4 separate regions of the Homo sapiens genome follow, and all the other regions are reported to be linked to region 4. Evidence: microRNA targets listed by miRTarBase, many of them from high-throughput screens and not tested one by one. Region 4 holds a microRNA gene; each other region holds the end of a gene's coding sequence.
What was found. Region 4 holds the annotated microRNA hsa-miR-3171 (AGAUGUAUGGAAUCUGUAUAUAUC, at 1,158-1,181, opposite strand). A microRNA usually pairs through its seed, bases 2 to 8, with sites in the 3' UTR of a target mRNA and lowers its output. Matches are read on the target gene's strand: a 7mer-m8 pairs with bases 2 to 8, a 7mer-A1 pairs with bases 2 to 7 and ends in A, and an 8mer does both.

Region 1: miRTarBase lists ZHX3 as a target of hsa-miR-3171. Seed matches in the 3' UTR shown: 7mer-m8 at 733-739.
Region 2: miRTarBase lists ATP2A2 as a target of hsa-miR-3171. Seed matches in the 3' UTR shown: 7mer-A1 at 2,126-2,132.
Region 3: the mRNA of SPA17 is a reported target of hsa-miR-3171. The part of its 3' UTR that is shown has no 7-base or 8-base seed match.

The regions. Positions count from the first base shown.
Region 1 is chr20:41,182,604-41,185,603 of GRCh38, reverse strand. It overlaps ZHX3 (zinc fingers and homeoboxes 3), which reads left to right. Exons shown (of 4, transcript NM_001384317.1): 4 at 403-3,000. The coding sequence ends at 413. Among named protein-coding and RNA genes, the nearest start is that of MIR6871, 15 kb to the right of the region's middle.
Region 2 is chr12:110,346,014-110,349,231 of GRCh38, reverse strand. ATP2A2 (ATPase sarcoplasmic/endoplasmic reticulum Ca2+ transporting 2) reads right to left here. Exons shown (of 20, transcript NM_170665.4): 19 at 3,114-3,218; 20 at 1-3,031. The coding sequence ends at 2,762. Among named protein-coding and RNA genes, the nearest start is that of ANAPC7, 56 kb to the left of the region's middle. RefSeq lists an enhancer at 1-39.
Region 3 is chr11:124,693,981-124,697,198 of GRCh38, reverse strand. It overlaps SPA17 (sperm autoantigenic protein 17), which reads right to left. Exons shown (of 5, transcript NM_017425.4): 5 at 1-2,896. The coding sequence ends at 2,753. Among named protein-coding and RNA genes, the nearest start is that of SPA17, 22 kb to the right of the region's middle.
Region 4 is chr14:27,632,089-27,635,306 of GRCh38, forward strand. It overlaps MIR3171 (microRNA 3171), which reads right to left and starts at 1,190; the gene lies at 1,117-1,190. All of the region lies in intron 2 of MIR3171HG (MIR3171 host gene), which reads right to left. It overlaps LINC00645 (long intergenic non-protein coding RNA 645), which reads left to right. Exons shown (of 5, transcript NR_039992.2): 4 at 2,156-2,256.

The sequences.
Region 1 (3,000 bases), not on the chromosome of region 4:
ATTATATTGGAACAGTATGTTCTGGAGAGCCTGGAAGGAGAGGGCAGGATGAAGCATTTTAGGACAGGACTCCAGAGACGGTGGTGGCGGAAGCCTGGGGAGCTAGGGGGATTTAGTGGGCCTGGAGAGGCCAAACCACTGCTCCTGCTGCTAGGCCTAGGGTTTAGCAGGGTCTCTCAGAGAGTCTGATGGCCTTACAAGGTTGAGCCAGCATCCTGTCCTTAACCCACATTCCCTCAGGCTGGAGGGTGGGGGAGTGGGTGGCAGAAGGCCATTCATTGCTCATGGAATTAAGAGGTCCTCAAAGCCAGTGATGCCACCCTGGTATAGCAAGGACCAGGCTGCCTGGGGGGCAGGTGGTGGCAGCTGCCGTAGAGTGACAGGCATGTGTTTTCTTCTCAGAAACAGACTGAATTTGATCTGATTAATGTGAAGGACTGGCCAGTCTGGGAAACCGCCTGCCACGTGGAAGAGCCAAACCCGACTCTCTGCTGCCACATGCCGTTCCCATGCCCGGCTGCTGGGCACCTGGGAGAGCTTCCAGAATCCTCGCAGACAGCCCAGAGCCTGCCGCTACCCTCGGCCTGCCCACCACCAAGCAAGCAGCAAGCAAGATGGGGTTCTCATCAGTTCTTCCTCCCACAATGTAGGACCTTTCCTTTACCTTCCAATGGATAAAATAGTTCAGAGTTCATAGTCATATTCATAGACACAGAATCAAGCTTTTAACATATACATCCACCTCTATATGTTAAATAAAACATCAGATTATCAACACTGTCATTACGTAGAAACTTTGGTTAGCCAAGCAGTGCATTGTCAGTTACGTCATCTCTAAAAATGACCTGTGTCTGTTCTCTGGGGATTGCTGGGTCACAGGTGCCCCTCACCTTCCACAGTCAGGCAGGGAAGTTATAGGCACAAAGCTACGTCTGGAACCCCTTTGTGCCCCCTTTGTGTTCCTCAAGGAAGCAGTACCTTTGAAGAGATCTCTGCTGCATTAAGTGATGACCGGCTACGTTTCATGTCAGGCTTGCTTTGCCTTGTGGGCTACTCAGTGCAGAACCTGCTGTAACCCTCAGTTCAAAAAATGGACTGGCAATGTGATTAGCGTTGGATGCTTTACCATTCTCTTTAGTTGTTACCGTAATTCTGCTTTTTCATGGGAGTTTGAATCATGGACCATAACTTTTCAGTTATCAGATCAACTAAAGAAACATTTGTTGTTAAGCCTAATGTGCTGACCTATGTGCCTGCATTTTTTTTTTAATCTAGACATGTTTGGAGTGAGAGAAAGATGGAAAAAAGACATGGGGTAGGGACGTAAGTGGAAATCTATAGCCACAGCCTGAAGCTTTGACCACTGCGGTTTTCAGAGCCCTTTCTCCACACTCATTTCAGAGCCTCCTATGGTTTGGGAAGGAATAACACACTGGCCCATTAGTAAGGGTGAAGGCTGGAGGGATTTGTTGACTTCTTGGAATTATCAGAGGTAGGGTGGTCTTTAGCACAAAGACTTGCATGCAGAGATCCCTGGCAGAACACCCAGAGTGCCCGTGGCTCCCACCCCAGGGTCTGGCCGGTGTGCTGGATGCATGCCCAAGGGTGCTGGGCATCACTGGTCCTTGTGAGGATGCTTTTAAAGTTTTATATTTATGTCCCCAAACTTGGAAACAAGAACTCTACTTTAGCCTAACCCTCATGTCCTTTTTTGAATTGAGAAAATTACAGGAAATGGTGCCTTTGAAAATTAGAAAACTTGCTTACAGAGCTGTTCTAAATGGTAAATCCTCAATTTCCCCAAGACCGGTTGCTCTGAGAGTAGCTGGTAAAGAGGGGCGAACTAAAGACCTGTCCACCTGTAGCTCCGCTCATTTCTTAGAAACCACCTGCTTCCCAGAGTGCCAAGCCACAAGTACCAGGCTTCGTGGGCACAGACACCTCCTGGGCTGGGCAGAGTGACAGTGCTAGAAGACCCCAGAGAGAGGGCAAGGGCTTTGGGCAAGAAGCACTGGTGGTGTTTTAGGGACCGTCCTTCTCCCCTACCCAGGGAACTGGACCTGGCAGGGCACCGTGCTCATGTGGCTCCAAGGACAAGCATGGCGGTGGCCCCTTCTGCCTTCCAGGAGAGGTCTTGCTTTTGAAACCAAAATCATGTTCTTCTAAAGTGTCATCTTCTGCCCTCCCTGTCCCAATAGGGACCACATCTTATTTGTCTCAAACAGGGACTTGTGAGTACTTGGCAAGTTTTGCAGCCTATTTTTGTATTCTTAATTTGGGGAGTAAAGATGTTTGGTCTCAAAAACCTTTGAGGAATTGCCAAGAATGGCGAGTGATTGCTTTCCTTCAGAGAACAGACACTTGGAATTTCTCCTTTTAGTGTTTATATACGTGCAGATTAATTTATATATATATATATACACACACACATATACAGTATAAATACTCATTTGATTCTCGTAAAACGCGCATCTGGCGTGTGCAGTTGAGAAACTTGGTGGCACATGGGTGTTGGGGGAGTAGCCTGTGTTGGAGGGACACCAGTGCACTAGGCAGCTGGGGCGGCCCAGGCTGAAGCCATCTCCGGGTGTCTGAGAAACCACCCAGTGCCTCACCTCCAGATCCTGCTGGCATCACCTCCAGAGCCCTGCATGCACTGGCTGAAGAGTTGGTCTGTGGAGAGGATTTTCTTGGTTACTTGTATTCACGGTTAATTTACAACCCAAACAGCAAAACACAGTTGGTGGACAAGTTCATGCAGGACCTACAGTGACCCAGCCATGGGCACTAGCTCATCTTTCAGGTGGAAAAGTACAGTGCTGCCTGCCCTGGTATGTTTTTCTTATAGATGTTAGCCCTGCCCAACAGCCAGGGCTACACTACAAAAGGCAAGAATGCCCATGTAAGGAGCCCAGCAGTCTGGACAGATCCTTCTTCCTCTGCTGTTGGATGAGAGTGAGTGAGTATGCTCTGGACCTTATCCTTGAAAGATGATCAAAA
Region 2 (3,218 bases), not on the chromosome of region 4:
GGACCTGGTCTTTATGGGTTGACCTGAGGAGGAGATGCTGAAGTGTTTTCACCCAGCAAAGCCTTCAGTGAAATGGAGCAAGTGGCCCTGCTCAAAACAGCAGTGGGCCTAACCCACTCCCAGCTGTCTGGACCAAGGGAAGTGGGTCCCTCCATGGGCTCCTCTGTGGGCTGGAGGGGTCTGAAGCTGAGAAACCATGAAGCTAACTAGGGGCTGTGCGACAGCAGGCCACACACTACTCAACTTTTTTTGTAAAGGCCACTAAGTCAAGGAACTGAGTCAGGAAAAGCTGAGTTTTGTTTGCACGGAATAGCAATAGTGCAGCACTCAAGTCAGTTTGCAGCCCAGAGATGCACTCCTTGCATTTGGCCCATTCAACCCATTTCTTGTTACACCTCATGATGCTCAAACTGGCAAAATTTACCCCCTGCCCCAAATGTTCCCTGCTGGGCAAAGCAGCCTCCCTTCCCGAGAGCCACAGCTGCCTGCGAGCAGCCTTGGAGGCTTCACAGTAAGGCTGATTTTTTTTTGACAGGGCCTCACTCTGTTGCCCAGGCTGGTTTGAGTACCTGGGCTCAAGCAATCCTTCTGCTGTGGCCTCCAAAGGGCTGAGACTTACTTACAGGCATGAGCCACCACACCCAACCACGGACTGTGCTTTTAAGAGTCGGTCTCCAGGTTCCACCTCCATCCCTTGAACGTGGGCCCTCTGAACTCAGCAGCACCTTGTCCTGCTTGATGCCTCCTAACCCTCCCCAAACTCCAACCATCTGCATTACATCTACTGGCCATCCCAGTAACCAGAGCCTAAGTACATTTTGAAGAATATAGTCGAGGCCTCACACCCTGGCTAAGGAGTAAGCTGGTTTTTGGGCTGTGCAGAGCCACGTCCTACTAACTGTGCTTTAACATCCCCTGCAGAGCTAAGTCTTAGCCACCAAGGACAAGACCAAGCAAGGGGGGGTGGGGGAGTGGGGAAGTGGCCTATTTAAGACGAACCTATCGATACCCAGAGTTCACTGGTTCAGTTACTTGCTTTCACTAGTTTTTAGCTTTTTAATAAATAAGTAGCAATGTTCTGGGATGACTCCTGGCAGCTGCGAACCCTCATTTTAGCAATAGTCTGCACAGCTCCTTCAGCCTGTTGGTCTGGCTGAAATGCCTCTCTCCCCACTCCGGCTTTTGTCTGGCTTGGGCCCTCCTGGTCATCTTGTCCTAGGCAGCCTGTGGAGGTCTATGAAAGCCACACCTCCAGCCAGCTGATGCTGCGCCCGAGTCACATGGCAGGCGCCACAGGCAACCCCGGTGCTCACAGGGCATCAGGGAGCACAGCAGCATCTGCCATGGAGGCGGCTTATAAGTTAGTGACATACAGTTATCTCACTTGGTGGCAGTCACCTTTAGGCTAAAGCATCCAAATCCCAGGAAGAAAATACTCACGTTAGTTGATGGATGTTGGAAGGCATTGGAGGAAAACACCACAGTTAGGACTGTTAATGACTTACACACTGTTGGTGAGACTCATCTCGAACATGCGCAAACATTGATCGTAGTAACGGTGGTGGTGGTTAGTGCCACATTCAAATAAAAATAGTTCTATACAATATGTTCATTTGGTCATGTGCTATTTACAGATTTTACAAAACACACACATACACACACATACACACTTGCCCTTATGTTCTCTATACCAGGCCAGCAGAAACTTGCATAAAATGTACATCACAGATGACAATTAGTGCCTGTACATTAAGAATACAATTCCTATGACTACCTACACAGCAGAGCAGGAGCCTTCTTCCCCTCAAGCAGAGTACAACTAAAGTTCTGAGCTAAGAACTGGAGAGAAAGTTGGACATGTCTGTTAGTCCCAGGTAAGCCACTTACGAGTTAAAGACAAGACAGTTATTTTTCTCTGTCCATTTAAAATGTTTTATTTTTTTAAAACTAGATGACGTGCCACTGAAATAGGCAATGTTGGCAAAACAATGTCTGTTACAATAAAATACATTAGACATTTAAATAAATAACCTTAAAAACTATGTGAAGGGACATAAACCCAGTCGATTGAATCTGGAACAATGTTTTCTGCACAAGCGAGTACAGGCATACCTCTCGTTAAAACTGATGTAAACAGAACGAACCATCACAATCCTAAAGAAGAAGCCAAGCGGGGCGGGGGTAAGGTGGGGAGAGGTGGGGTGGGGTGGGGTGAACGGAGGCCAAAGTGGGTGAGGGAAGTAGCAAACCAAAACAATACTGACTGAGGTAGCAAGACTCTGCTCAGTGCAGAAAAATTGGCTTATGAATAAAAATTAGACTGTGATATCAAATTAAATCCGGATCATCATGCAAAAGACACAATACATGCTATTTAGTTTTAGAAAAAAAACCACACACATTCATTTCCTAAAATCTGCTGCCAATTAATTTGCTGACAATGTCTGCTGGCTCAACTATTTTTTTTATACAAGGATGAGTATTAAACAGAACACTGTACATGCTTTTTCATCTACAAAAAAATATTTGCATAAAATAGTGTTAGTTCTCTGTACATGTCAATGGACACTTTAATTATGTGTATAAAAAAGGAAAATCTTGCCCCACTGGAGTCAGAAAAAGCAAAACAAAATCTAGAGTATGAAACCTCCATCACCAGCCAGTATGTTCATGTGAAAATTCAGCAGAAATAGACAGTTGCTTTAAACAATAAAAAAATTAATTGATTAAGTTAAACATCTTCTTTATGGAAAACTGTCAGTCAAGACCAGAACATATCGCTAAAGTTAGTGTCTGTGCTATAGACCCAGATCACCAGGGGCATTATGAGCAGCACAAACGGCCAGGAAATCCCATCGGTGCATGCCGAGAACGAGCAGGATTTGGTGGCAGGCTGCACACACTCTTTACCAGGTTCCAGGTAGTTGCGGGCCACAAACTTGAGCGTCTCATCCATGAGAATCACGGGCAAGGAGATTTTCAGCACCATCAGCCACTGGGTCACGTTCAGCGGTGTGATCTGGAAGATGAGCTGACACACAGGGAAGACGTGTCACGCCTCCAGCCTCCCCTGGAAGGAGGTGGCTGGTCCCAAGCCCCACCCAACCACTTACTGGCAAGGGTTCGACATAGAGGATCAGGAAGTGGAGTGACATGGACAGGCAGATGGAGCCCACGAGCCAGATGTTCTCCCAGGGGGGCATCCTCAGCAAGGACTG
Region 3 (3,218 bases), not on the chromosome of region 4:
TGCAGTAGTAGTGAGATAATCACTGGCCAATATAGGTTATTGCAATAATTCACAAGGCTATCATGGGAACTAGGACCAAGGCGGTAACAATGGAAGTGGTTAGAAGTAGGCAGATTCTGAGTATTATTTTATAGGTACAGCCCACAGGTTTTGCTGATAGATTGTATATGGGGTGTGAAAGAAAGTGACGCATTAAAGATGAATCCAAGGTTTTTGGCCTGAGCAAATGGAAGAATGGAGCAGCCATTTTTGAATGGAAAAACTTGGGTGTGGGGGAAGTTTCAGATTTGGGGGCAATATCAGGATTCATTTTTTATATGTTACTTTTGAGATGCCTATAGACATCCAAATGGGGATGTTATGTAGGCAGTTGAATATAGAAGTTCGCAGGCAGAGGAGAGAAAGGTCTGGGAGTGATCATTAAGAAGATTGGATTTTAAAGCTATGAAACTGCAGGAAATCAAGTGAGTGTAGAAATGGGGTCGAAAGACTGAGCCTAAGGGCACTTAGCATTTAGTGGTTGGGGAGTTGAAGAGTTACCAGTGAAGGGAATTGAGAAGGAACAGCCAGAGAGATAAGAGGAAAACCAGATAAGTTCTAATAAAGTGTCATTCATATGTGTTGTTCTCATAATATCACATCCATTGCTCACCTTTTCCTTTTCCTCCTTCACTACCAATATCACTACCATGAGATCTGTGTGTGTGTGTGTGTGTGTATGGAATGCATAGTGCTAGTCACTTTATGTGTATAACAGGAGAATTACTGAAAAAGCTAACTCATCTTTTTTTTTTTTCCTGCTATATACTCACTAGGGAAAAAATCCCTTTTTTCCTCTTCTGATCTCTCCAGGTCAGGGAATCTAAGTCTTTGCATAAATTCTGGGTCCCCCCTTGACAATCCGCTAAGCAGGATGGCTCTGTCTGAGAGGGGAAGGTGTTAGAAGCTGGTGCTTTCAGTGGAATGGGAGGGACGAACAGCTGGAATCCTGGAGGAGAACTGATTTCTTTTCCTCTGTAAGCCTGGAGGAGAGGGGTTAAGGAGGAGAGGAAGGGGGATATTAGAGACTTGTGTTTAGCTAGCATGAAACTCTCTACAGTGGCAGCAAGATTTTGGAAGGAGAAAGGCTGCCTGTATGAGTGGACATTAGAGAATGAAAGCCACAACCTTGAAAGGGTTGGTGTGAATCAACTGTGTTTGAGTGGCGATCACTTGGGGGAACCTCTGTTGCAGAGCCTGATAAAGGCTCAGTGCCAGGGAAGGGCAGTGAGGCACCTGAAATAAAACTGCTTTGCAGAAAGAGCATGTCTAAGCCTAGGACAAGGATCAAAGTGTTTGTAGGAGAGTATTTGTTGTGACAACATAGACCTGGTTTTAGAATCTCCTCAGGACTGAGCCATCCTGGCTTGTTTTTAAGCTTTGGGGGAACACTGGCTTTGTGACTATAAACCAAGAGAGATGTAATCCTGGAACTAAATCATGGGCCATCCACTATGGTGCAGGCAGGAATTGGAACCAGCCAGAGAATCACCTCAGTCTGCTGGACTATGCTACAACATTATGGTAGAAGGCAACAGCATTAACTAAATGGTAAGACTCCACTTTCTACCTTTTGTATTGGGAAGAGAACTGCACCCTTTGGTCTAAGACATGAACCCTCAGTTTCTTGGACAATCAAGGGTGGAGAGGCCTCAAAAAGGAGAGACGGAACTTTCTAAAACTAAGGCACTAGGGATTTGAATGAATCATTGAAAACATAAAAGAGATAAAGCCTCTGAGTTTGTTAAACAGGCATTACCATTGTATATTTAAAAACTTGGGAAGTTTTAACTGAAGAAGGCAGCATGATATGATAGCTTTTGCTTTTTACAATATGATGTTATTAGTCTTGTTCTGTGTGGTTCTGGAGAGCAAAACAATAAAGCATTGTAAGTTGTATGAGTGTAAGAACAAGTATTCACTACTAATTCCCAGCACATGAATAGTACTCAATACATTTTCAATAAATGATTGAATACATGTATGATAAATGAAAACCAGTGGGTTAAACTTACAAGGAGGCAGAGGCTTTTTTTTGTTTTGTTTTGTTTTTGAGACAGAGTCTTGCTCTGTCGCCCAGGCTGGAGTGCAGTGGTGCGATCTCGGCTTACTGCAGCCTCCACTTCCCAGGTTCAAGCGATTCTCCTGCCTCAGCCTCCCGAGTAGCTGGGATTACAGGTGTGCGCACCACGCCTGGCCAATTTTTGTACTTTTAGTAGACATGGGGTTTCACCATGTTGGCCAGGCTGAAGGAGGCAGATTTTTGTCCCAGCTTATCTTTCTAAAAATTCCAAAATTAAATAGACTATCCTTAAAAAGCAGTGAAATTCTTTACCACTAGGAGTGAAACAGGAGCTAAAGAACATTTTTGGGGGATGTGATAGAGAGGATTTATTCATTTGATAATAGTTAGAACACATAACCTCTGAGATCTCTGTAATCTCAGATACTTTAGTTCTATAATTCTAAATCCAAGGGTCTCTATAGATAGGCTTGAGACAAGTGTAAACAAACTCATGATCTCAGAGAAATCTTCAAGTGGCATGTTTCAATGGTATGCTTATTAAACAAATGCTCATGACAGATTTTCACAACAGTAACGAATGTTATTTCACAACATCAAATCTTCCTTCCTCAGGAAGAAATGACATTAATAAGAAGGTTGATGGATTTGGATTATTTTTCATGTTTCCTGGAGGTAAAACCAGTGTCCTCACTTGTTTTCCTCTTTTTCCTCATTTTGAAGACTATTTGTTTTCATTTTCTTTGCCTCCTCTCTGGCTATGTGTCCCCGGAAGGCAGCTTGGATTTTGACAGCAGCAACCTCTTCTTTTTCCTTATCTTCCTCAGAAGAGTCCTTCATCGAAAGGAGAAAAAGTAAGAGACTCTTTAAATATGGCGTAGTTTTGATGCCACAAAAATAAATGGATGAAATTTAATCATTTTAGGGATGCAACTATCTGAGAGCTGTTGCTTCCTGAGGGAATTTCATATATTGTCACATTGTATATGTACCAAATGGCAAATGCCAAAATAGCAGGCATTTTGTTTTGTCACTCTTTTAATATGTCTCTGCAACAAAAGATCATTGCCAACTTTCTTTCCCCTAAAATAGTGCCTATTTAAGTTTCCTGAGCAACAACATTTTTTGGGGGGTTGGGGGGACAAGAAAGAATCCT
Region 4 (3,218 bases):
AAAGAGTATATTTAGGATGGAGAGCCATAGAAAGAGGACCGTTTTATCAACTGTTGTGAAAAATCTCCTGGAGGCAGGCACAACTATGGAATGCTAGAAAAGCAAGAGAATCTTTCTAAACTTTGCTTTACTTAGTCTTTTAAATGTGATCTAAGGCTCTGTGGAAAGAATCTCATGGACAGGTTGACCCTTGCTCCCCATCTTCTCTGGTTAGCAAAATGTGTTGTTTCTATTCTTGTGTTTTCCTCATGTGAAATAATAACATCAATAAAACTAGACAGACTCTTAACATGCATAACTGTACATGGTGTATTCAGATTACAAGACCTTTTAATTATAAATTTTCTATTGAAACACTCTAAACAGGAGTGCGGGTGATAGGTGATGTATACATATATATAAATGCCGTCCTTCCAGTTACTTGGAATTTAGGTTCCTTCGCAAGCAAAGTGTTCCTCCCTGTCTATTTAAAACTGACAAAGACATTTGTCTTTACTCGTGTGGAGATGCCTGATAACTTATTTCTAACTATCATACGCTCCACAGTCATGACATTTTAAGAAAATAGATCAAATCTATCCTGGATTTTTTTTCAAGTTCCTTTTGATTGCTGCTGGGAGGAGAATAGAGAGATAGTAGAGAATAGCATTAACTTGCAAAGTAAAATAAATTATTTTGAGATAACTATTCTATATTAGAATACAAAATAGCCTCCTAGTTACAATAACAAATTCAGCAGGGCATGGTTGTAATTCTCCAGGCTTACTAGTTTTGCTACCATGGTGTGTTTTCTCTGGTATACTCCAGATGATTTAAATAGTGAGACTGATACAGAAACCTCTGCAATGCATGTATTAAATGCATACATATATGAATTATAAGACAGCTTTTTCACTGGTTACCGACTGGACACTAAGGACAGAGTTTTTGAATTTGAATCTGAACATTACTATTTGCTCACTCTGTAACCATGAACATGATAATTCATCCGTCTGTGCCTCACTTTTCTCAGTTGAAAATATTAATAAAATATATATAGAGAGAATATAGAGTATATATATAGAGAGAGATATTCCATACATATTTTATATGTATTTACATATATATACACACATACATATATAGATTTATGGAATCTATATATACACATATATATAGATATATACAGATTCCATACATCTCTATATATATGCATAAATATTTACACACATATATCCATTTATCTATCTATAAAACAAGAATTAGTATATGTAAAATCCTTTGATGAGTGTCTAGTACAGATTAAGAATTAAGAATCAAATGAATGTTACCTGATATCATATGGGTATATACATATATATAAATATTTGTATATACATTTATGTATATATACACACATATATAATATAACTGTATATAATAAAACTTTGAATTTGGCAAAGTGAGGTAGAAGCCCCAAGTTAAATTTCATTAAGATTAAAACTGTAGCATATCCTTCTATTTAACTTCACACTTCAGCTTCTTTAAAATTTTTATTTCCAAGAAAGTGTACAAATATCTGCATATCATAAGCAAATAAAATATTTACATAAAAGATGGCTATAGCCACAGTGAGTAAATGCTTCAGGCTCCATATGCCTTAGAACTAAAGTGACTGTATAACTTATCATCCAGACCACGACAGTTTAAGAATAAAATGTGTGTGCTTTTAATAATCACTCCAGGATACCAAGTGTGAATTGAGATTTTTCCAGGAAAACCAGGAAGATTTGTCACCCTACTCAAAACCCTAGAAAATACAGTAAATAAGAACATATTTTACATGTCCCAAGGACAAACGCATGAGGAAAGTGGCGTCATCTTTTCTTTGTGGTGAAATAGTATCATCTATGCTCTCCGCAAAGCCCAGGTTGAATTTGTAACTCAGGTAGAATTGTTGATTTTGTATTTTAGGGTTTTTTTATTATACATAATGCGCTGCACCTCATAGTTAAAAACAATTGTTCTAAGCTTCCACATGCTGCTAAGATACAGCTACCGGGATTTAGTGCGAATCACGTTGTTCGAGGCGTTAGTTCAGCTGTCTGTTGAATCCCCTGAAACTAATGCTCAGTCTATATTAATGTCTCAGTCCCGAGAAACCTCAGCCTATTCTCTCCTATAATTAATCTTGCAGGTGGTGCCTTGACATTATTGGTTCACCAACAGAGCAGAACTGCCTCAGCCATCAATAATAATTCAACGCATCAGGATGAGGCCTACGCATGGGCCACAGAGGTAGCCAAATATGCAGAATCTCCTGCATTCCTCTCCAGTAGAAGGGAAACTGCAATTGAAACTAGTTGTTTTGGTGGCTCGATAATTTGTAATAGAGGGGTCTTGGTGTTACTAATTGTTTTGCTTTATGCTTTTATCCAAATGTAGCCACGGCTTGGCACAAGGGGAGTGATTGTCTGTTTACTGAATCTTAATATTGAGGCTGTTACAAATTGTCTTTCACAGATGGTGGGAGCTTTTCAGATCGAGAGAGGCAGGGAATTTATTACTCAATATTTCTGTATTACTGATTGGGACGTGAGGAGCATAGACAATCTGTCCTACTGCAGGGTTTGCTGCATGGTTTTTTTTTTCCGTCTGTAAAATTATGGCTGGCTCTAGACATTTTTCTCATTTTGTATAGATAGCAGCTGTGTAATTTCCAGCAGAATGTTTGCGTTGATCCCCCTTCCTTTAATTGAAATCCGCAATTATGAGATTTGTTTCTTTTATGTTTGTGAGTTTATTGGTTTAATCTACAAAATGTGCTGTCTTGCTGTCTTACACAGTTAAAGGCTACAGCACAGTTGGGACTTAAATGAAAAACATTAGAGGGAGGGGCTTTCTGTTTTTTGTTTTTTATTTTTTATTTTTTTGGTTGGCTATAGAAAGAATCCAATATTCTTCCCCTCAGATAGCAGGCTCTATGACAACTTAGTAAACTGTCATTCTGTATAATTTAAAGCTGTGTCTCTTGTATATATATATATAATGTATGTATTATATATATATGATTAGGCTCATTTCTAAAAATGAATAATATGTGCGTGTGTGTGTGTGTGTGTGTGTGTTCATAGAATGGAAAGGGAATATGCCTGCATAGGAGCATTTCTTTGATTATAGTAACTAGTAACATTTACATAATGCTAGCTTTATCAGCACATTTTAGGGGAAAGAGAGTGAAAGGATTATAAAGTAGATAG